2 linked regions of the Homo sapiens genome follow. The protein of the gene in region 2 interacts with the protein of the main gene of each other region in a pairwise test. Each region holds a gene or a part of one and is shown on either strand. Other genes may lie near its edges.

The links.
Region 1: the proteins of RAB11FIP4 (region 2) and RAB11FIP5 interact in a two-hybrid assay, tested with the Homo sapiens proteins (one study listed by BioGRID).

Annotation. Positions count from the first base shown.
Region 1 is NC_000002.12:73,107,886-73,119,489, forward strand, and holds the start of RAB11FIP5 (rab11 family-interacting protein 5), read right to left. Parts: upstream 5,064-11,604; 5' UTR 4,893-5,063; coding exon 4,462-4,892; intron 1-4,461. UniProt on the Homo sapiens protein: Rab effector involved in protein trafficking from apical recycling endosomes to the apical plasma membrane. Involved in insulin granule exocytosis. May regulate V-ATPase intracellular transport in response to extracellular acidosis.
Region 2 is NC_000017.11:31,385,628-31,397,263, reverse strand, and holds the start of RAB11FIP4 (rab11 family-interacting protein 4), read right to left. Parts: upstream 5,590-11,636; 5' UTR 5,412-5,589; coding exon 5,253-5,411; intron 1-5,252. UniProt on the Homo sapiens protein: Acts as a regulator of endocytic traffic by participating in membrane delivery. Required for the abscission step in cytokinesis, possibly by acting as an 'address tag' delivering recycling endosome membranes to the cleavage furrow during late cytokinesis.

The sequences.
Region 1 (11,604 bases), on a different chromosome or scaffold from region 2:
GAAGCCAACAGAGAGAAGGCTGTGGGGTCACGCACCATCTGCCCACCAACTGTCTGCCCAGGCTGTCTGTGGGCTACGGGATAGATGGAAGCCCTCAAAGACCATCCCAGCCTTAGGCTAATGGGATGCATGTCCCCTCAGGTGCCTCCCAGTGCCCCCAAACCCACCCACCTAAGGAGGTCTCAGAACACCATGACCAGCCAGGCAGAAGGCTCTCATCTCAGACCTACATCTTTCACAGCCTCAGCTCTCCGAGCTCCCTTGCCAAGTGGCACAGTCTAAGCAGGGGCTGAACGGAGCCTCTTGCAGGCCACAATTCATGGTCACAACAGTTTTAGTCTTTGTGATGAAAAAAGACAAACTGATCCCAACCCAAGCTGAACCCACAGCCTTTGCTTTCCCAAGAGGCCAGCTTCTAACCATTGATCCAACAGGCCCAGGATGACGATCCTGTCTGCCACACTCCAGGCCTTACCGCAGGGACCATTTCACCCTTATCAGGATGAGGGAGAAGGTGGACAGGGGCTCCATATAACACAGTTGTGCTCTCTCCTCCTCTCCTAAAACACACAAAGACCAGCATTCCAGGGGGCAAAGACCAGGTCTCCCCAACCAAAATGGCCTTGTGGCAGATGCCCTGTCTTCTTACTCCAAAACCTTTGCTGCTGCTTCCTTCCTTCCCTCTTCTGATATATCCAGGTCCATTCCCTGGGGGTGTGATCCACACCAATCGCATAAAGACCAAAAAGGTCCAAATGACCCATCTGACCCCACAGGGAACAAGGAAAACTAACTAACCACCACATCCCATCCCTGTCTTGGGAGTTAGGGAGGCAAACACAGGACACCCACTGGGGAGTGCTAAGAAGGACGTTGGGCCAGGCGTGGTGGCTCATGCCTGTAATCCCAGCACTTTGGGAGGCCAAGACAGGTGGATCACCTGAGGTCAGGAGTTTGAGAACAGCCTGGCCAACATGGCAAAACCCAGTCTCTACTAAAAATACAAAAATTAGCTGGGTGTGGTGGCACATGCCTGTAATCCCAGCTACTCAGGGGACTGAGGCAGGAGAATCGCTTGAACCTGGGAGGGAGAGATTGCAAGTGAGCCCAGATTCTGCCACTGCACTCCAACTTGGGCAACAGAGTGAGACACTGTCTCAAAAAAGAAAAAAAAAAGGATGTTGAAGATAAAAACCAGAAAATAAATCGCAGAGAAGCATCCAGGATTTCCAGACCAACAGGAACATGACGATCCATGGACAGTTCTACTGAGGGTGGGGAGATCATTAGTTTCCTTGTGTACTACCATTACATTTTGTTTTGAGAATATCCTCTTCAATTATTTGGAAGCCTCTGGTGAAATTCCTCATTTCAAAGACTGCCCCACTCACACAAGACCTTCGGAGGCTGCTGAAGCACCTACAACCCCAGCCACCACCATCACACAAAATGGGGCCCCAGAGTCACCACCACGCTAATATTTTGAGAGCTTCTATGTATCCAGAACTACATTAAGGCTTTTACAGATGGTGTCTTATCTAATCTGTACAACTCTATGATTATTATCATGACCTTTTTCAAAGTGAGGAAGTGGGATAAGTAACCTGTCTGCTGGTAAGTCACAGAACGGGGAGTGAAATCCCAGTCTCCAGGTTTTTAAGCCCTGGGCCATCCTTCCTTCCCAACAGGGCAGGGGCAGCTCCAGGCAGGGCTGCCAGGGAGGAGAGCTGCAGAGCTGCGGGCTTATCTGAGCCTGGTTTCAGGACTGCAGAGGCCTCTCAAGCCCAGCCCTATTTCTTGGGCCTCTTGCAGCAAATAGAATACAGAGAGCTGCAAAGGGCCAGCTCATTTTGTTGGGAACTCTCGTACTCTTCTGTGTACTCCGTCACCCATGGTCCTAAGGCTTTCCTAGGCTCTAAGTTCTAGACTGTCTCCCCCATCCCATAAGAAGCTCTTCCAGACATTGTTACTAAAATCTCCCTTCACCATCACTGCTCTGCACTGACCACCTACCATGTACAGGGACTGTACTAGGTGCTTAAGCTGCATTTTCATTTCATCCCTCACATCAACCATATGAAGGTATAAATTATCTCCATTTTACAGACGTGAAAACTGAGGCACCAAGAGTTTATATGACTTGCCACAGGTGGCAGTTTTGGGACTGGGATCTGTCCAGTGCCACTCTGTAGCCCCTTCCTAACCATAAGGGTACCTTCCCCAGTCAGGTCCTCTCTTGGCAAAGGGCCACCACCTGCCCTACCTGAGACCACCACAGCCAACTCCTGGAGTTAAAGAATGGATACTTTTCATTTCCACCATTATCCAAAGCTGAGGAGGGTACACCCTGGTCTTCTCTGCCTTGCCCTCTCCCTACCAGGCAGCGTTCAGACTCAGTCTTGGTAGCCCACACCAGGGTGCTCCAGGAAATACCACCAGGAATGACCACTACAGCCAGAGGTGGGGACCACAGCGGGGGTGACAGCCCTCCCCCTCTGTCAGTGGGCATGCTGTTAGGTCCAGTAAACTAGAGCACCAGGCCAACTTCACAGACTTTCCTCTGCCCATCCTAAGTGACCCTCCCCACTCCTGTTCCCCCCCCGGTTCTATAAATAAACCAGGTTGTTGCATCAGAGAAAACAGCCAGGTGGGTGTGGAAAGATCCTGGTGGAAAAGATGATTTCTATAAAATAAATTAAGGTTCCCATTCAGATCAAGGGGTGGTAAGTCAAATTCTCCAAGACAGGCTGTTCTTGGCTGAAAATGGGTCCACCTGGACCTACAAGCTTGGCCAGCTCAGCTAAGGAAGATCCAGAGGCCAAGAGGAAAGCAAGGGCAGGAACTGGAAAAAACAATCAAAGAAGCTGCTCCCTGCAGGCCTGGAGCCTTTTTTTGGTCTGCCTCCTCCTGTTCCCCCAGCACCCCCTGAACAGATGTGTCATCTAACAGTCTGGTCAGAGTAGCTGATTGGTGGAGGGTGAAGGACTGGGGGAAGGGGTGGAATGATTTGGGGGATAGGCACCTCTTCTGAAAAAGAATGGGCTAAGAGATCCAGGAGAGAGCTTTTCGCCCCATATACCCACCCCCTTGGGCTCCAGGAACCAGGAAGGAGGGAGAGGACAGAAAGGAGGAAAAAAACAAGGTCCAAGCTATATACCACATGATCCCACACCCTGCCACCAAACAGCAAGTCATGAAGGAAGGCGGGGAGCAGGCCAGGGGATGGGGAAATGGAGTCAGGTCACAGCCATGCCTGGAACCTGCACTAACGCCCTCCCCATCCCAGACCACAGAGAGCCAGCCAGGAAAGTCATTCCACACCCATGTTTCAGAAAACATTCAAGGTCAGATCCTTTTTACCTAAATCCTGCTTTCATTTGGGTTTGCACCAGGCTCATCCCCCTCCTCCAGCAAGCCTTCCTGGATTTATTCACTCAGTGGATGCCATTCCACTGGGGCAAACCTTTCCGGCACCTCTCCTGACCTAAGGCACAGTCCTGCCCCAATCCCCTTACCCTCCTACCCAGATCACTCCCAAGTTAACCACTTGAGTGATCCACAGCAGGCTGTCAGCCCCGGGGACTGGCTTCCAGCTCCTGCCCAAGCCCAAAACAGGAAATGGGGCTCCAAGGCTGAAGCCTTGATCTTAACACAGGCAAGGTTAAATGCTGCCAAAATAAATGATTTAAAAAAACCCTGGCCCACTGAGGTGGAAGTGACCGGGAGATAATCTCCTGCTGTTCATTAACCATGCCGCTGCCTCTACCTCAGGCAGGGCAGGGCAGGCAGGCAGGCCACTGGAAGGCTGACTCAAGTGTTTCCTTCCTTAACTTAGAAGCTCCTCCTATCCTCAGACCAGGGACACAGGACACAGAGGGACAGGATGGGGGTGGGGGGGTGACATCTCTAGATAGTGGAGGGCATCTTGAGAGCAAGAGGCAGATGCCCCCTGCAGCCAGCTTCTACGTTTAGCGGGGTAATCAACATTCAACCTCGCCCTGGAGGAAGACACCTGGCTTTCCTTCCCCCGTAGGGCAAGGCTGCGCCTCTCCACTCCCCTGCCGGACAGGCGCCCGCAGTTCCCCTCCCCTTTGAGGAAAGGGAGGCAGGCCCGGAGGTTCTAAGAACGGCCCCAAGATTTCCCTTCTTGAGGTTTCCATAGCCCCAAAGCCTCTGAATCTCATTCCTAACTTTACTTGACAATCTACTCCTAACGTTCGCCACCACTTAAACCTCCCCCAGGCCTCCCAGGGACCACCAGTGGCTGAGCCCCACACAGCGCACGTTTGGGAAGCTTGAAGACGACCCCGAAATGCGAAGAACCAACGTTTCTGTCGGTTTACGCCCTTAAGCACGAGGCAAGGGCTCACTGGCCCGGCTGAAGTTCGGGGTCCTGATCCCCCACCAGCCCCGCCCTGTTAGGCCTTTAGCCGTTTCTGTGCCCCCGCGCCCCCTACTCACTGCGTGTGCTGGGCGCGGCCTGCGCCGAAGACCTCGTCCAGCGCCACCGTGGCCTGGCCCAGGAACTTGTCGACGCCGATGAGCGAGCGGTGCATGGTGGTGAGCACCAGCTCGCAGGCGGCGGCGGAGCTCGCGGCCCAGGGCGCCGGGCCCGCGTCGGCCTCCTGCGCCCGCAGCAGGCCATCCAGGGCCCCCGGCGGCAGCTCGAAGGAGCACTCCTCACGCCACTCGGGGCAGCCGTGCGTCTTCTCCACCACCGACGTACTGTACTTCTCGCGGCCCACCTGGATCACCGTGTACGCGTCGCTGGTGCTGCCCGCTCCCGAGCTCTTGCCCCGCAGCCCGCGGGCCCGCAGCACCGTCACCTGGACGTGCGTGGGCAGCCAGCGGGAAGGCCCCGCCGCCGGCTCCGCGCCCCGCACCAGGGCCATGGCGGAGAAGCGGGGGGCGAGGTCTGGCCGAGCCGGTGCAGACCCCAGGACCTGGTGACAAACCCGGCCGCGGCAGAAGGCGGTCAGGAACCAACTCTGAGCGCCGCCGCAGCTGCGGGCTGGGCTGGGCCGGGCCGACCGGCCGCCGCCTCCCCGCCTCACCGGGCCGCTGGCCGCGGGCCGCGCCGCGACGTCAGCGCCCCGCCCCCTGCCCCGCCCCGCGCCCGCCGCCCCAACCGGCGAGGCGGTGCGACAGGGATGCGGGCACGCAGCTCGCGCCCCGGCAGCCGCAGACCAGCCCGGAGCGGGAAGGGGCGGTGCGCGGCCTCTGCAGAGGGTGGGCGGAGTTCCCGCGGTGGCCCCGCCCCTGGCTGGGGGCGCCCGAAGCAACCCGGCCTCGCTTGTGGGGAGCCCTACACCCGCGGCCAGGTACGAAAAACCCGCTCTGCGCCTCCAGGCCAATCCCACGTCTTCCTTCTAAAAGTCCCTGCTCCGGAAAGCCCTCTCCGTAAAAGGGTCCCGGCCCGCAGTTCCTGGGATGGCCAGCCTCTTGGCGCGGACTTGGGGTGATGGGGACCCCCGCCGCTCCCCTGACCCCGGGCCGCGCTCTCCCCTCCTCCAGTCCGCCCCTGCGGGGGAAAATGCCGGAGTGAAACTGGAGCGATTGCCGCCCCGCCACGTGACGGTCCCGCATCGGCGACCTGGAAGCGGGTGAGCTGCCGCCGCCTCCAATCTCTCCCGGCGCAGGGGGCCGGGATGCGGCCATGCGGCGGCGCGGGAGGCCCGAGAGCGGGGCTCACCCTCCTCAGACTCTGCGGCGGAGAGCCGAGTGATGAATAAATGAGTAACCACATCAATATTTAAGTGTTCACTCGGAGCCTTGGGGCCAGTGTGTCACGGGTTGGGGGAAATTACAGGCCCTGGTGGGGGGTTAAATAACTACTTCCACCCATTATTAAGTGCCTACTGTGTGCCAGGGCCTAAGTATTAACGTATACTTGGTTTATTATTGATAATAACGATGTTTAGTAATTATAGATGCTGAATTTCAGCCAACTCTGGTCAGTGCGCTTTTATATGCATTACCTCATTTTATCCTCAGAGCAACTCTGTGGGGTGAGTATGGCTTTTATCCCTATTTTCCAGAAGATAAAATGTCAGCTCAGATGGGGGAGGGTTGTGAATCCACTAGATGCCCCCAGAGCGTTTTTTTTTTTTTTAACTTTCAGAGCCTGTACTTTTAAAATAATAATTTAAAAATAATACACACAGCTTTTTTAAAAAAATCAAATAGGACAGAATGGCTTGCAATGAAAAGCAAGAACTCCCTCTCCATCCTTCAATCCAGGGATGCTGCTTAAAGCCACTGGTGTTTTCAGGTCTGATGGTTACCTCCACATCACTACATTAAGATGCTCACATAGCTACATCTGCATTTATCAGGACTGGCCACTGTCTGTTGCCTTCCTCCTATGATAGATAATGATTTAGCTGGCTCACACCCACTTCCATCCCTCAATCTTGTGTAGTTATGCTATTATTTTTAGTTCCTCTATAGCAGGGGTCCCCAACCCTTGGGCCACAGACTGGTAACCCTCCATGTCCTGTTAGGAACTGGGCTGCACAGTAGGAGGTGAGTGGTGGTAGGGGCTAGCTGGTGAAACTTCATCTGTATTTACAGCCGCTTCCTATCGCATTACCGCCTGAGCTCCACCTCCTGTCAGATCAGCTGTGGCATTAAATTCTCCTAGGAGCACAAACCCTATTGTGAACTGTGCATGCGAGGGATCTAGGTTGCATACTCCTTATGAGAATCTAATGCCTGATGATCTGTCACTGTCTCCCATCCCCAGATGGGACCATCTGGTTGCAGGAAAACAAGGTCAGGGCTCCCACTGATTCTACATTATGGTGAGTCATATAATTGCTTCATTATATATTACAATGTAATGATAAGAGAAATAAAGTGCACAGTAAATGTAATGCACTTGAATCATCCTGAAACCATCCCTGCCACCCTCAGTCTGTGGAAACTTACATTTTGGTCCCTGGTGTCAAAAAGGTGGGGAACCAGTGCTCTATAGGATACCCAACAGGAGAAACATGTATTTCTTCTTAGGGAGACTCCACAGTACCCCTCAACTGTCCACCTTCCAGGCCATGTCCTCTACTGGGAATATGAACCTAGGAAACCAGTAGAGTAGGCAGAGGAGACCCATGATAGCACACCCAGCACAGGCCCAGTCCTCACAGCCTCCCACCTTAACTCTTCCATCAGAAGACTGGAGTGGGGAAGTCCTAGGCACCAGCCCCATGGTCCAGCAACCCTGACGATAGCACCTAGCTTTAGAGACAGCCAGATCTGCCTACAGATATTGGCCATCTGCCTCTTAGTAGCTATGAAACCTGAAGTTTAAGCCAACTCTCTAACCTCTCTTGGCCTTATTTCTCCATTTGGATAATGGGATAATGATTCTTACCTCAAGCCAGGCGGAGTGGCTCACACCTGTAATCCCAGCACTTTAGGAGGCCCAGGCTGGTGGATCACTTGAAGCCAGGAGTTCAAGACCAGCCTGGGCAACATGGTGAAACCCCACCTCTACTACAAAGACAAAAAATTCCCCTGGCGTGGTGGTGGGCACCTGTAGTCCCAGCTACTTGGGAGGCTGAGGCACAAGGATCACTTGAACCTGGGAGGCAGAGGTTGCAGTGAGCCAAGATTGTGCTGCTACACTCCAGCCTGGGCGACAGAATGAGACTTTGTCTCAAAAAAATAAAAAATGGGGCCAGGCCTGGTGGCTCATGCCTGTAATCCCAGCACTTTGGGAGGCCGAGGCGGATGGATCACTTGAGGTCAGGAGTTCCAGACCTGCCTGACCAACATAGTGAAACCCCGTCTCTTCTGAAACTATGAAAATTAGCAGGGCATGGTGGGGCACACCTGTAATCCCAGCTACTCAGGAGGCTGAGGCACAAGAATCACTTGAACCTGGGAGACAGAGGTTGCAGTTAGCCAACATCGCACCACTGCACTCCAGCCTGTGCAACAGAGTGAGACTCTCTCTCAAAAAAAGAAAAAATGGAAATAAATCATAACGCAACCATCCATAAATAAACACTGTTAATAATTTGTTGTGTTTCTTTCTAGTCTTTATACTGTATGTGTTTGTTTTATATACATTATGGTTTTTGAGACATCTAAAGTATAATTATTAAATCTGTGGGCTTTGGAGTCCTGGTTCTACCATTACTTTATATATATTATCACTCTTGGCTATAAGTCTGTATACTAAAGAAAAAGTATATACATATAATACTTACACACACACACACACACACACACATAGTCATGTTTAACCCTGAAGATAACCATTTAAAGCAAGTGCTACCCTTGGTTTCACTGATGAGGAAACAGAAGCAGGAAGAGCTTGGGTGATTTTCCCCAAGTCTCCAACCGGAAAATTGTAGAGACTGAGTGGCTCTACTGGCTGTGGTACTCTGCTCTCACACCAGCTTGTTGGTCAGCCAAGCACTAGATCCATTTAAAGTCAATAAAGAAGGAAGTGTTCTCATACCCATTTTACAGACGAAGATTGAGGCAACCAAGGTTACAAGAGTCAGGATGAACCTCCCACTTTAAGAGTGAATTCTTCAAGGACTTTGCAAGTGACGATATCATCACTAAACTTCAACTAACATAAATGTGTCACTCCTTCAGCGGGTCTGTTTCATCTGTTTGCCTGTTCTCCAACGTTACTGCTCCTACCTCCTCCCTCCCTCCTCCTCCGCCAAGGAGGAGCAAAGCACCAGGAAAGGGGAAAAGGTGGAGAGCACTCAGATGGCTCCTCTGCCTCACCTGCCCTCTGGCTCTCTTTCCTCCTGCCTTGGCCCTCACAGATTGGCAAGCTCAAGCTTCCTGCTGGCTCTGGACTGTGGCTGGCTATAGGAGGGGAACGAAACCAGCCAGGGCTCCCACCCCACGTTGCCTGGCCCTAGAAGGAAAAGCCAGGTCTGCTAGCTGTCTGTGGTTGAGAAAAGAGCAGAAACACCAGATACTGAGGTCTTGGCCATCTAAAGGTGTGTTTCCTCCTCTATAAGATGAGATCCCCCCCACTCCCTGCAGCAGCCTGCATAAGAGTTAGACAAGAAGACCCCAAAAGCATCAGTTTCCTCTGCCTCCCCAGGGCTGGGTGTCCTCACTGCCTTCCTGGGCCTCTCTAGTCCATTGGAGACAGTTCTTGCTTGAAAAGCATCCACCTATGTGTAGCTTCCACTCATTGCCCCCTCTTCAGTACCACTAAGCCCATTTGCTTTTCCATGTAGACACTTCACATGTATTTGTCCTGCTCTTCCAGCTACATTTCCCTCTGTTCTTCACCTCACCTTCCTGCAGCTATTTTCCAGGCCCTCTTTATAGCAGAACCACATGCCCAGGTCTAAGCCCTGGTGCCACCACTTACTAACTGTATAAGCATGGGCAAATTACTGAACCCTACTGAGTCTGTTTCCACCTCTGTAAAATGGGCCTGCTAATAAGAAATTACCTCATAGGGTTAGTATGAGAGCTATCTCAATACACCCTAAGCAGTAATGAGCATGAATTATCATCTTAGAACTCTTTGCTGAAGGCAAAAGCTTCTGCCTCCTTGTTGTTTCATTTGCATTTCTTTGATTGCCAGAGAGATTGAACTTCTTTTCAGTTATTAGTCATTTGTATTTCCTTCTTTAATGAATTGTCTATTTTCTGAATTGCCTATTTTCTATGCTTGTTTTTCTTTGAAGCCTTAATTTCTTATTATTTATACAAATGCTTTATATGTTAAGAATAGTAACATGGCCAGGCACAGTGACTCATGCCTGTAATCCCAGCACTTTAAGGGGCTGAGGAGGCAGGATTGCTTGAGTCCAGGAGTTTGAGATCAGCCTGGCCAACATGGTGAAACCCTATCTCTAAAAAAAAAAATACAAAAATTAGCTGGGTGTGGTGGCACATGCCTACTGAGGTGGGAGGATCACCTGAGCTTGGGAAGTCGAGGTTGCAACAAACTGTGATCATGTCACTGCACCTCAGCCTGGGCATCAGAATGAGGCCCTGTCTCAAAAGAAAAAGAAAAAGAAGGCCGGGCACGGTGGCTTATGCCTGTAATCCCAGCACATTGGGAGGCCGTAGGTGGGCGGATCACAAGGTCAGGAGATCGAGACCATCCTGGCTAATACGGTGAAACCCTGTCTCTACTAAAAATACGAAAAAATTAGCCGGGCGCGGTGGCGGGCGCCTGTAGTCCCAGCTACTCAGGAGGCTGAGGCAGGAGAATGGTGTGAACCCGGAAGGCGGAGCTTGCAGTGAGCCAAGATCGTGCCACTGCACTCCAGCCTGGGAGACAGCGAGACTCCATCTCAAAAAAAAAAAAAAAAAGAAAAAGAATAGTAACACTTTGTTGTTCATATTTACTGCAGGTTTTCTTTTTTTAATTTAATTTAATTTTTTTTTTGAGACAGAGCCTTGCTCTGACACCCAGACTGGAGTGCAGTGGCACAATCTCAGCTCACTGCAACCTTCACCTCTCGGGTTCAAGCGATTCTCCTGCCTCAACCTCCCCAGTAGCTAGGACTATAGTGTGCACCACCACATCCGGCTGATTTTTGTATTTTTAGTAGAAACAGGGTTTTGCCATGTTGGTTAGGCTGGTCTCAAACTCCTGACCTCAGGTGATCCACCCCCCTCAGACTACCAAAGTGTTGGGATTACAGGTTTTAGCCACTGCTCCCAGCCTGGATATGTTTTCGATATAAGACATTAGGTAGGCTGAGTGCAATGGCTTATGCCTGTAACCCTAGCACTTTGGGAGGCCGAGGCAAGAAGATTACTTGTGAGCCCAGGAGTTCTAGACCAGCCTGGACAACGTAGCAAGACCCTGTCTCTTTTTAAAAATTATTTTTAAATTAGCTAGGTGTGCTAATGCACGCCTGTAGTCCTGACCACTGAGGGGGTTGGAGTAGGTCTGAGGCAGGAGGATTGCTTGAGCCCGGGACGTCCTGGCTTCAGTGAGCCATTATCACACCACTACACTCCAGCCTGAGTGACAGAGCTCAGGCCCTGTCTAAATAAATAAATAAAATTAGATAATCAAATCTTTGAATTCTTTCCATTGTTTTAAGCTTGAGTTCTTCCAAACTTACAGGTCCAACAATATTCATTTGGATTTTTTCAAGTTTTTAAGTTGTTTGGATTTTTGTTTGTTCTTTTATTCTCTTTAAATCCTGCTAGCAACCATTTTGATGAATGATTTCAGGTAAATATCTAACCTGCTTTCCCCCAACAGCTATCCAAGTTTCCCAATATTTATTGCAAAGCCCTATCCCTTAGCCATTGGGTTTATCATATAAGTTTATATATATATTTGTAGTGAAGGGGTGGCCTGCCCCTCCACACCTGTGGGTATATCTCATCAGGTGGGACGAGAGACTGAGAAAAGAAATAAGACACAAAGTATAGAGAAAGAAAAGCGGGCCCAGGGGACTGGCGCTCAGCATACCAAGGACCTGCACCGGCACCAGTCTCTGAGTTCCCTCCGTATTTATTGATTATTATTTTCATTATCTCAGCAAGAGGAATGTGGTAGGAGAACAGGGTGATAATAGAGAGAAGGTCAGAAAAAAAACATGTGAGCTAAAGAATCTATGTCATAATTAAGTTCAAGGGGAGGTACTA
Region 2 (11,636 bases):
CTCTTGGCTGCCTAGGTCTCACTGCCTACAGGGAACCACTGATCTGGCCCTACCTTCCCCTTCACCCCTTCCTCCAGCCACAGCTGTGGGGATACAGTTGTTTCTTCCCTGTTATCCAATTGCTACTCCTGAGCAGAGGAGCTTTAGTTCCAGGTGCTCCTGTTCCTGGAAGCCACGTATCTCAAAAGACATCGATCCCAGCCCCAGGGCTGGCTCCTGGCCGGTCTCAGCCCATCCTAGCACCCCAACCCCTTTGCCATTTCAAAGACCCAGGCTTAACCCAAGTGGCACTAGCAATTCCCCCATAGCAGGCATTAGCTCAGAGGGGACCTGAGGACTCAGGGAGCCCAGTGGGGACCATCATTTCATTTCCAAGCAGGCAGGACAGGCCCACTGTCCAGAGGAGATGGTGCTGTGTTAATGCATGGGAGAGGCCTACTTGGTGATTCTTATTTCTATTTTTCTAGCAAGAAGGACGGTCTTCAAACTGGAAAGGGAAGAGGACCATGTCACAGGGAAGTGTGGTCCAGGACATCTCTGGCTGCTTTCAATGTCTACCATTCTGACTGCCGAGGGGACGTAAGAGGGGCAGGAACACCACAGCTGGTTAAGGAGGGTGAGTTGAGCACACAGAGGCCGGTGCCAGATCTTGACCTCAATTCCTAGCAAATCTCCAGCCTAGAACAGCCTCTCAAAAATGCTTGCAAGTGTTTAGAAAATAATAATAATGACAAGGAGAGCACCAGCAATTCTGATATTATGCCTACTCTGTGCAGATACTGGACTAAGCCCTTTGTATGTATTAACTCACTCAAACCCCACAATAACCCTATAGAATGGGGACTCTGATCAGCCCCATTTGATGGATGAGTAAATAGAGGCCTAAAGAGGTTAGGGAGACAATGCAATATATCAGAAGGCAACACAGGGTCAGGATGTTGAGCCATCATGTTACATACTTATCAGAGTCCTGCTCCCTGGCATTGTAGACTTTCAGGATCAGGGCAGTGGTGTGCCCCCATCCCTCAAAAATCTGCATTTCTTTCTTTTCTTTTCTTTTCTTTTCTTTTTTTTTTTTTTGTGGCAGGGTCTCACTCTGTCACCCAGGCTAGAGTGCAGCGATGTAATCTCAGCTCACTGCAACCTCCGCCTCCCAGGTTGAAGCGATTCTCCTGCCTCAGTCTCCCAACTAGCTGGGATTACAGGTGCACGCCACTACACCGGGCTAATTTTTGTATTTTTTGTAGAGATGGGGGGTCTCACCATGTTACCCAGGCTGGTGTGGAACTCCTGAGCTCCAGTGATCCTCCCACCTCAGCCTCCCAAAGTGTTAGGATTACCGGCATGAGCCACCACGCCCGGCCCATTGTCTCCTCTTTTCTGCTGTGATACCTAGGTCAACAAAGTAGGGAACTATCAGGGACTAACCTAATCCATAAATAACATTATTAAGTAACATTCATACTTGATCCTGACTTCCTTAGTTTTTACCTAATGTCCTCTTCTTGATTCTAGGGTCCCATCCAGGACACCACACTGCATTTAGTCAGCTGCCTCCTTAGTCTCCACTTGGCTCTGACAGTGTCTCAAAATTTCCTTGTTTTGGATGACCTTGACAATTTTGAGAGGTCCTAATCAGGCATTTTGTAGAATGCCTCTCGGATGGGATTTGTCTGGCATTTTTCTCAGGACTAGACTGGGATTACTGGTTTGGGAGGAAGACCACAGAGGAAAAGTTCTATTCTCACCACATCACACCAAGGGTGTATGCCATCATCACAATCTGTCACTATCGATGTTGTCCTTGATCACCTTCTGAGACAGTGTTTGTTGGGTTTCTCCACTATACAGTTGCTGTTCCCCCCACTTTCCAAACTCTACCCTTTATAAGGAAGCCACTACGCACATCTCATGCTTACACGGTGGGACGTTATGCTTCACTTCCTCAATGGGGCAATTATCAACATACGTTATTCAGATTTCTTCTATACGAGAGATTTTCCTATTTATTTATTATCATCTGTTCAATAATTTATACATATATATATTTCATTATGGCCTCATGGATATTTATTTCATACTTTATGACCTAGTATATTTTGGTTTTTGCAAAGCATTTGATCCTGGTATCCCTGGTATTCTGGGGGTAGGTGGTAAACTGTGGACAATCAGCTCTAAGTTCACTGAACTACATATCTAATGAATGATCATTATCCATCCCAGAGCACAAGTGGCTGGGAAATCAATGTCACTGCCTGATTTTAAAACAAATAAAATAGAAACAGTCAGAGTACACTGCATTTCGTAAGGGAGCCCCCCCCCCCCGCCCCCCGCCACCCCACCGCTGGAAAACAACACTCCGATTTTTTAATGCATCAGGGGATAAGATGGGTAGTGAGTAGAGATGCAAAATATATTTCCACGGGTCTCGGTCAATACAGCATAAGCCGAAAACCACCCCTACAAGTGCCTCGGGGCCCTGTCCATGGTCCTGCCCTGCAATGTTTAACCAGCCTTGTGGATTCAGACACACCAAGCACTGCTTCTCCAGCCCGCAGGCAGCAGCACAGCTGAGAGTGATAGAGGTAGGATGCTAGATTCTCTTTCTTGACAGATACAATGTGATGAAATGAACAAGACGAAATTAAATGGGAATAAGGGCCAAGAAACAGGCTTAGATTCCAGAAATTACTGACAGACAACAGGCCCGAATGCTTCCACAAGCCAGGATTGTTAAAAGAAAAAAGAAAAGAAAAGAAAAGAAAAAGGAATTGTGTACAGTAAGAGAGACTAAAAGGTGACAACAACCACATACACTGCACAGTCCTGGAGAGGAAACAGCAAAAATGGACATTTTGGGGTCAAATAGGGAAATCTGAAAAAGGTCTGCATATTAAACCAGATGAAAATTTATTGAAGCAGAAAAGTCATGATCATTTACCGGCAAAAAAAATCAGGTTACAAAACAGTATGCACAGTATGATCTCATTTTCTGGAGAAAATTGACATATAAGCATGGAAACAGCTCTGGAAAGGTCTGACAGAAGTGTCATTGAGGCGCTGCCTGAGAGATAGGACACAATACTTTTTATTTTGCTTGTCCCTATTTCCAGTTTTCTGCAATGCATATCCACCGCTTCTGTAGTAATCTCAGAGTATGCTTTTAAAAGAAAAAAATCACTGACCCTCCCCGAAGGGTGGAGAATCCCTGGCTTGGCAGAGGTTTCTAAAACAGATCCCTGGAGGTTTCGGTGGCCAGAAACTTAATATAAGCAGAGTGCAGTGCCCCATTCAGAGGCAGCCCCACCCTAAGCTGTGTGCATATGTGTGAGGTCTTGGGGCTAATATAGTCCTGGTGGGGGCGGCGGGGGGCGGTCTGCTTGTCCAGCCCTTTCATGTTATTGCTAGGAAAACTGAATCACAGAATTAGTCGATGGCAGCTCCAAGGCCAGAAGCCAGAGGTCTGGCTACTGGGTCACATGGAAATGGCCTAGGGCTTCAGGAACTGGGGTATTTGGCCTGGAGAAGGGAAAATGGGAGTATGGAGCTGGGAAGGAGAGAAGGGGCAGGAGTGCTATTTTCAAATATTTAAAGGCTCCCCCAAAGAAGAGAGACCTATGTGAGTCCCCGTGCAGAACGGTGATGACTAAGTGACAAGCAGGTCTGTCTCTAGAGTGTATGAGGGAGAAGGTTCTAATGGCAGGAACTGTCCAGCTGGGGGAGAAGTGGGTGAGGCTTGCTGGGCACGTGGCTGAGGCCGGTGGCCCCTGCCAGAGGTTGTTGGGAGGCCCTTCCCACTACTGAGGCTCTGAGTTCGGGGACTCCAGGTTTCAGCCAGAGCTGGTAGCTTCTTTACCCGACCTGCAGTCTGTGTTCTGAGAGGAAGGAGCGCGACTATCCCCATGCCAGGAGTCTGCTCAGCCTGCCCCAGATGGGAGCCACTGGAAAAACGGAAGGGCTTGGCTGGCCTTTGGGGAAGAAGGGTCATGGTGGCAGCAGGCAGTGTCCCTCAGCAAAGCCCCGCAGAGGGCAGTCTGGGCTCTCACAGGCACTGCAGTGGTCTTTCCTGTGGTGGGTACCTGAGTTCTCAAGCCCTGAAGCTGCCTCACTCTCTTCTGCCCACAGCTCTCAGCGACTCACAAGTCCCGGCCCATGCCCAGGTGCGGGTGGAGAGATGATTCTCAATCGCCTCCCACTCTCTGGTGACGCAGAGGCACGGGCCCAACCTGGCCATCACCCAGCTTCTCCCATGTTCTGAAATGCCTGGTCCGACCTGTTCTGGGAACACAATGCCAGCCAGTGCCCATTTGAGGCCCATGGCCCCAGGCCCCCCATGCAGGGCCTGAGGCCTTAGATGGCCTTGGAAACCCACTTCTCAGGGCTTTTGGCTCCAGGGGAAACCCCTGACCATTTCAGCCAGGTGGGTGTCTTGTCCTCCCCTTGAGACACAGTCCCCAGTCCCCATGCCGGTGGCACCAGAGGACACTGGTGTAGTGTGCGTTTAGTGATATGACTCCGTCCACCCTACTGGCGGCACCGACCCTCCGCTTCCAGCCCTGTTAACAATCTACGTAAGTCCTGCTTTCCCCAAATAGATGCGGCCCCGCCACATGAAAGCCCTCTGCTCAGCCACCACTCCCCGAGCCTGGCTTTGCCTGGCCTGCTGCAACCAACACAGCCAGCTGCCAGCCTGGCTGCCCAGCAGAGCCTGAATGAGAGGTCACCCGACACTGGCCCGGGAGTACACGGTGGCCCCAGCAGACACCTCCTTCCGTGTCTGGGCAGGGTGTGTGCAGCCGAGGAGCCAAGGCTGCAGAGCACCCCTACCGGTCCCTTTCACCCCCTGGCCCGGCCCAGCAGGACGTACACAGACCCTTGCATCTTGGTCTCCGCAGCGCCGGGTGGGGTGGGGAGCCTAGGGCCGGATTCTGGCAGCTCTCTCCCCCAGACAAGGGTGGATGTGCAGACCGCTCAGAAGGACCTGCATGGCCGAGGAAGGAAGGTGGGCGCAGAAGCCACCCTAGGCGTGACGCGTGACGCTCGGGGCACGGGCGCCGGGGGGCGGAAAGCGAGGGCCCGGCTGGGCCAGGGATACCCGGGGGGGGCCGAGGTCCTGGGCTCCGGCGGAGGGAGGGGATTGGGAGGGAGGCCACCGCCTCGGGCCACGCGGGTGACCCGGCGGGGGAGCTGGGGGAGGGGCGGCGGGGCTGGGCTGGGGTCCCCGGGCCGGGACTGGGGTCGGGCCAGCTTACCTCCTCGCCCTGGCCGAAGCGCAGTCCGAGCGCCGCGACGCGCTCCACGCGCAGGAAGCCGTCGGGGTCGCGGCCGCACACCTCGAACACCTCGCGCAGGCGGCGCACGGAGCGCAGCAGAGCCGCGGGGGCGCCCGACCAGCCCGCGCCGCCCGCCATCCGGGCCGGCCCGCAGCTCAGCCCGGACCCCTCGCCCGCCGCGCCCGCCGCCTGCCCGCCGCCGCCATCGCCGCGCGCCCTCCGGGGCCGCCCGTCTGGGTCTGCGCCGCGCAGCCTCCGCCCGGTGGCGGCCGCGGCCGATCCGTGTCAGCAGCGGCGCCGCAGCCCCAGCCGCTCCGGAGGGGAAGGGAGGGGAGGGGAGGGAAGGAGAAGAGTGGGGAGGGGAAGGAGGAGGGGCAATAGGGGGCGGGGAGGGGAGGGGCGGGGGCCGCGGCGAAAATGGGAGGGAGAGGGGGAGGCGGCGGGGGCGGCGGCGGCGGGGACGCTGCAGACAAAAGGAGCCCGCGTCCTCCCGAGTGGGGCGGCCCACGCGGGGCCGGCAGGCGCAGCGAGCTGCCAACGGCCGCGTCCTCCGCGACCTCAGTTTCCCTCCGCGTCCCCAGTTTCCCTCCGCGTCCCCGAGCCCACCCCTTCCTCTGGACACCCGGAGCCACCCAAAGGCCCTGCCCTGCCGGAGGATTCCGCGGGGTCGCGCCCCTTTCCGCTATCCGTGCCCGCTGCCGCGCCTGGCGTCTCCCGAGCGCTCAGGATGTCCTGGGGGCCTCCTGCATTGGCGCGTTCCGTGACTGCATTCATCCCGGAGGAAGCTGAGGCCCAGAGAGGTCGGACTCACTCTAGGCCACACAGCTGGCAAGAGGCAGGGCCGGGATTCGCTGCCATCTCTGGAGGGCTCTGGACTCCGTTCTTCACCTCCGCCCTGCGGTCTCCCGGCGCTCTCCTGCAAGACAGCACTTGTGGGGCCATCGGGCGGGGGAGGGCACAGAGAGGAGGAGCAGGCAACTGAACCCCAGCCTGGACCCGGGACCCTGCGACGGGGAGATGAGGAGAAAACCAGGATGAGGCCGGAGGGAGGAAAAGCGAGGCGCTTCCAGAGGCCTGCCTGTTCAGGGCCCAAGGCTGCTCCACGCCTGGAAGAGGCTTCCTCCCTTTCGCCGGGTTCCCACCATCACACCTCCCTGGCAGCCCGCATGCCCCAAGCTCAGAGAATCCAGGACAGAATCTCTGTCCCGCTGGCCGCAGGCTCTAGGTCAGGACCCTGGCCTCCTCCCATTAGTGCTCAGCGGAGCCTCCACCCCAGCTTGTGCTAACTTCCCAGCCCAGCCTCGGGGCCCTGCAGGACCCGGCCGGGCTCTTCTCTCCACCTTCTTGCTCGGCACATCAGGTCTTTGTGGCAACGACTGGCCCCAACCCAAAAAAAGGCCTTGGCTGAGTCTACTCCCACCTATGCTGTCATGCTCAGCACAGAGGTTTCCTCCTCCGGGAAGGCTTCTCTGATGGCACGCCATCTTATCTTCTATTCTGAGTTCTAAGCCCTTCTTCCAGGTGCCCAGTTAATTCTTAATTCTCTAGTGGGATGCCCATTTCCCCTACCATGCTGGGAAGCCCTCCAGGGCAAGATATGTCTTAATTACCTTCAAGTCCCTGATCTCCAGGCAAGAGTGGGCCCAGAGGAAGCCCCACCCAGAGGGGATGGGCCCGCCCATTATGTGAGGAGCCGGGAGCAACGTAGTGGCGCAGACAGGGAGTACGGGGTGAACTGCATGGCCTCCCCTAGCTGGGCCTCGGTTTGTACCTCTGTGGTCTTCCTGCTCAACCCTGAATATATCCTGCGCAGGGACTGCCATTTGCCTTCTGACAGTGGGCGGGGACCTCTTCTTTCCAGCCCCGGCTCCTGGGATGAACCTGGCTTTTAGCTACTCTCCTTTGACCCTTCAGTTCGTCTGAGAGCCACGAAAGGCAACACCTCTTGGGAAGAGAGACCTGTGGTTCTGAGGATTGAGGAGTCCGAAATGTGAGAAAGCGGGAAAGGGGAGGCCGTGGGAGTGGAGTAGGGGTATTCGGCTGAGTAGGAGCGTCTCTGCTAGCTGGATGCCGCTCAGCAGGATACTAGCATATTTTAGCCGGTTTCCTCGCCTGTACCGTGAGGATAATAGTACCTTCCTTTTAGGGCAACTGAAGATGAGAGCGAATCTAAGCAATGCTGCTTTCCCCCGACCTACCCTGCAAAATGGAGGTGGAAGTGGAGAATAAGGACAAGCAGCTGGCTGGGAGAGACTGGCTGCTGGAGATCCAGCCAGCCCCCTGGCAAGGAGGTAGGGAGTGGAAGCTGGGGGCTGCTGCCTGCCCCTGGGACCCCGATATTAGTTCGTCCAAGGTCAGCTCGTGCCATTTTCTCTCACCCAAGGGGCTCAGCACAGAAAGGAGATGGCCAGGAGCTGGGGCTGCCCCCTGGTGGGGGCTGCAGAAATGGCTCTCCGCGCTCAGCCTGGCATTGAATGCCCCCTAACTGGGGACAGGGGAGCTGGAAGACTCACCCACTTCAGCTGGCAGAGGCGGGGACCTCAGACCTGAGCATGAACAAATCCCAAGTGAACCAAGACAGAATCCCGCAACCAGATTAGCCAGTTCTTGTCAAAGACAGGATCATCACAAATTCAAAAATCCCCCAGGAGAGCTTTCCCTGACCGGACTCTCCTTGCCCAGGTCTCTGCAGTTTTGTCTCTGGTGGGCGATGGTTTGAAGGACACCTGCCTCCCCCACCAGTGGCACTGGGTCTCTTGCTCACCGCTGTGCTGCTGGGGCCAGCAAAGCACGTCACAGGCATTCTTTCTGGGGTTGTCACGTTTTTGTTGAGCACCTACGTTGTGTTGGGTATGCTAGGGAGACAGTGAAAGGGGTGCAGCCACTTGCTGAACTTGATGGGGGCAGTCATGGCCCAGTGTGATCTACACTGAGGTGCCAGGCTCTAGGAGCCCAAGAGGGCCTGCAGAAATGGCTGAGTGCCTACCCAAAGGTCCCTCAGAGATGGTGCAATTTATGGAGTCCTTGGGTCCTTGGAAGTGGACCTGGGACCACTAGGGCTCCCAAAACCCTGATCCAAGAGCTCAGAGTGCAGCCCCGAGCAGAAGCAGCAAGAGAATACCCATGTCAGGGCCGGCTGCAGGGTGAAGGGGGTTGCTCCAGGAAAGCAAGAGGTCCCCATGGATAGGGCGGGAAGGCGCGGAGCCTCCTTTCTGTCCTCCGCTTCCTCCAGGTGACCTCTGATTCTCCAGGGGATTTCCAACAGCTGCAGCAGCCTGGGCAGGCTGGAAATATACTGGGAAATATACATGGAAGGGACAGTTGGGACTCCGGCCCCTTCTCTAGGAAGAAACAAGTTTGATCAGGTCCCTCCCCTGCTGAAAACTCAATGGCCACCATTGCCTGAGCTGGCATTGTGCAGTGTCTTCATACTCTCCTGCCTCTCCTTAACCCTAGTCTGGGAGCATCCAGGCTCCCTCCTGCCTCCCTTTGCTTAGTGGGTGGGAGGTCTCAATCCTACCCCCACCCAATTCCACTTTCTCTAATTCCTGTCCTTGTGTTGTGGAAGTGGCACTTCCTACCGGAAGCCTTTCATGACCACCCCACTCCTTGCCCACCTTGACCACCTCTCCCATGTGCTCCTGCAGAGAAGTGAAAAGTACAGACTGCAGCCCACTTACAGGTATGGATAAGGCTGTGGTGAGAGTCAGTAAGTTAATACATACATTGTAAGTGTCAGAACAGTGCTGCTGGTTAGTGACAGCTATTGTCCTTGTGACTATCCTTACCATCTTACTCCTATTGTCTATCACCGGATTATCTGGGAAACTGTATGAAAGGTCACAGGAGTGACCATGAGGTCCCTGGGAGCAGGGACTGTGTCTATTTCTCTCCTGATTTCTGTAGCTCCTAAATAATGCCCATACACACATAGTTAGGGTCTGTGTAGGAATAAATTAAGGAATGGACAAATATGGCATGGTAGGCTGAAAAATGCCCCCTTAAATGATATCTATATTCCAATCCCTGTACATCAGTGGTCCCCAACCTTTTTTGGCACCAGGGACTGGTTTCATACAAGTCGGGGGAAGAGGGTCTTGGGATGAAACTGTTCCAACTTAGATCATCAGGCTTCAGATTCTCATAAGGGGTGCGCAACCTAGATCCCCCTCCTGCGCCATTCACAATAGGGTTCCCGCTTCTATGAGAATCTAATGCCACTGATCTGACGGAAGGTGGAGCTCAGGCGGTAATGCCCACTCACCCGGCGCTCACCTCCTGCTGTGGTTCCTAACAGGCCATGAACTGGTAATGGTCTGCAGTCTGGGCGTTGGGACCCCTGCTGTAAATGTTACCTCATTAGAAAAAGGGTCTTTGCAGATGTAATTAAGGATCTGGAGGCTGGGCGTGGTGGCTCACGCCTGTAATCCTAGCACTTTGGGAGGCTGAGGCAGGCAGATTGCTTCAGTCCAGTAATTCGAGACCAGCCTAGGCAATGTGATGAAATCCTGTCTCTACTAAAAAATACAAAAATTAGTTGGGCATCGTGGCATGTATCTGTAGTCTCAACTACTCAGGAGGCTGAGGCAGGAGGATGGCTTGAGCCAAGGAGGTGGAGGTTGCCGTGAGCCCAGATCATGCCACTACAGTCCAGCCTGGGTGACAAGAGTGAGACCCTGCCTCCAAAAAAAAAAAAAACAAAAAAAAAACTAACAACAAAAAAAACAACAGGATCTGGAGACAGGGGGGTTATTCTGGGTTAGCTAGGTGGACCCTTAATGCAATCACACATATCTATAGGATGGATCAGAGGCAGATTTGACACATAAAGAGAGGGTAATGTGACCACAGAGGCAGAGATTGGAGTGGTGCAGCCATAAGCCAAGGAGCAACAGCAGCCATCAGAAGAGGCAAGGAGCAGAATCCCTCCCAGAGCCTCTGAAGGGCCCACAGCCCTGCTGATGCCTGGATTTTGGCCTTCTGGCCTCCAGAACTGTTACAGAATAAATTTCTGGTGTTTTAAGCCACCAAGTTTGTGGGAGCTAGCACAGCAGCCATGAGAAATGAATACAGATGGGATGAATATCATGTGGAAGTTATCAAAGATTATGAAGAGCCAGGCTTTGGAATTCAAAACAGCTGAGCTGGGCACCAACATCTGTTGCTCTTTTAGCCCCATGACTCTGGTCAGGTTAATTTCTCTAAGCTTCAGTTTTTCTACCTTGTAGAGGTCCTTCAGGCTTTTAATTTAAAAAAGATTGCGTCATGCCTCGCCCAGCGCTTGGCACAGTACCTGGCACCTGGGTGGTGATTATGTGTGTCAGTATGGAGCAGTTTAGAACCAGTCTAAAAGGGGGAACATTTCTGTATTTTCATCTGTGAGCCTTGACTTCATTGTCCATGTTGTCTGGAAATGGGGCAGGATTCAGTTACTTCCTGTTCACAACCTGCTGGGTTTTTTTAAACCCATGAATAATTATCACTTTGAAGGGGAAGAAGGTGCCGTGAACTTATTTTCCTTCTTCACTGATCCCAGAATATGTTTCTGTGAGCAAAAGCAGAGAGGCCCCTGCTTGGAGACACAGCCAGCCCTGCCTGTGGAGTGCTGAGGACCCTGGCTGGACTAGGGCACACTTGGGGTGCAGGGGGGCACCTTGAGACCTCATCTTTCCTCTGCTGCATGAGCTGTTGATGTGAGGGGTATCCAGAATCTTCTCTGACCCTTAGAAGCAGGACCGGCTGATTGCTAAAATTCCTTCCGGGATTCTAAGAAGAAATGCCAAAACCTAACTTATTCTACCCAACTGGGCTCCAGATCCTTCTGTCAGCTGCAGAAATGGCCCCTGAAACTAACTTCCAGGCAGGGCACCAATATTTCCCTCCTGGCTTAGGAAGCAGTGTCCTTGGTGAGTCAAATCCACTCACATTCCCTGGCTTTGAGCCTTCTCTACTGCCCACTTCTGCCTAAAAGAAAAACTCAATCCTCAGGGTGAGCGGCAAGCAGGAAGGCCCTTTACAGCCTGATGCTCTCCATTCTGTAAAACATGGCTGGGCAGTAACATCATCTACTATACTCAGTTTACATTTATTGAGCACTTACTATATCCCAGGCATTGTGTGGCATAGACTCCAAGACAGTGACTCAACATGGAATTGATCAGTGAAATGCCTGGCTTGCCTTGCATATGCTGTTCCCTCTGCCTGGATTGTCCTCCCTCCACCACCCCCACTGCCATCCTTCAAATGCCACCCCCTCCAAGAAGCCTTCCCTGAGTCAGCTGCCCTTACTGCTCTGCCCTCACAGAACTTTGCAGACTCTACAGTGTGTTCGTGATGCACACACAGGGATGCTCTGCCCATCAG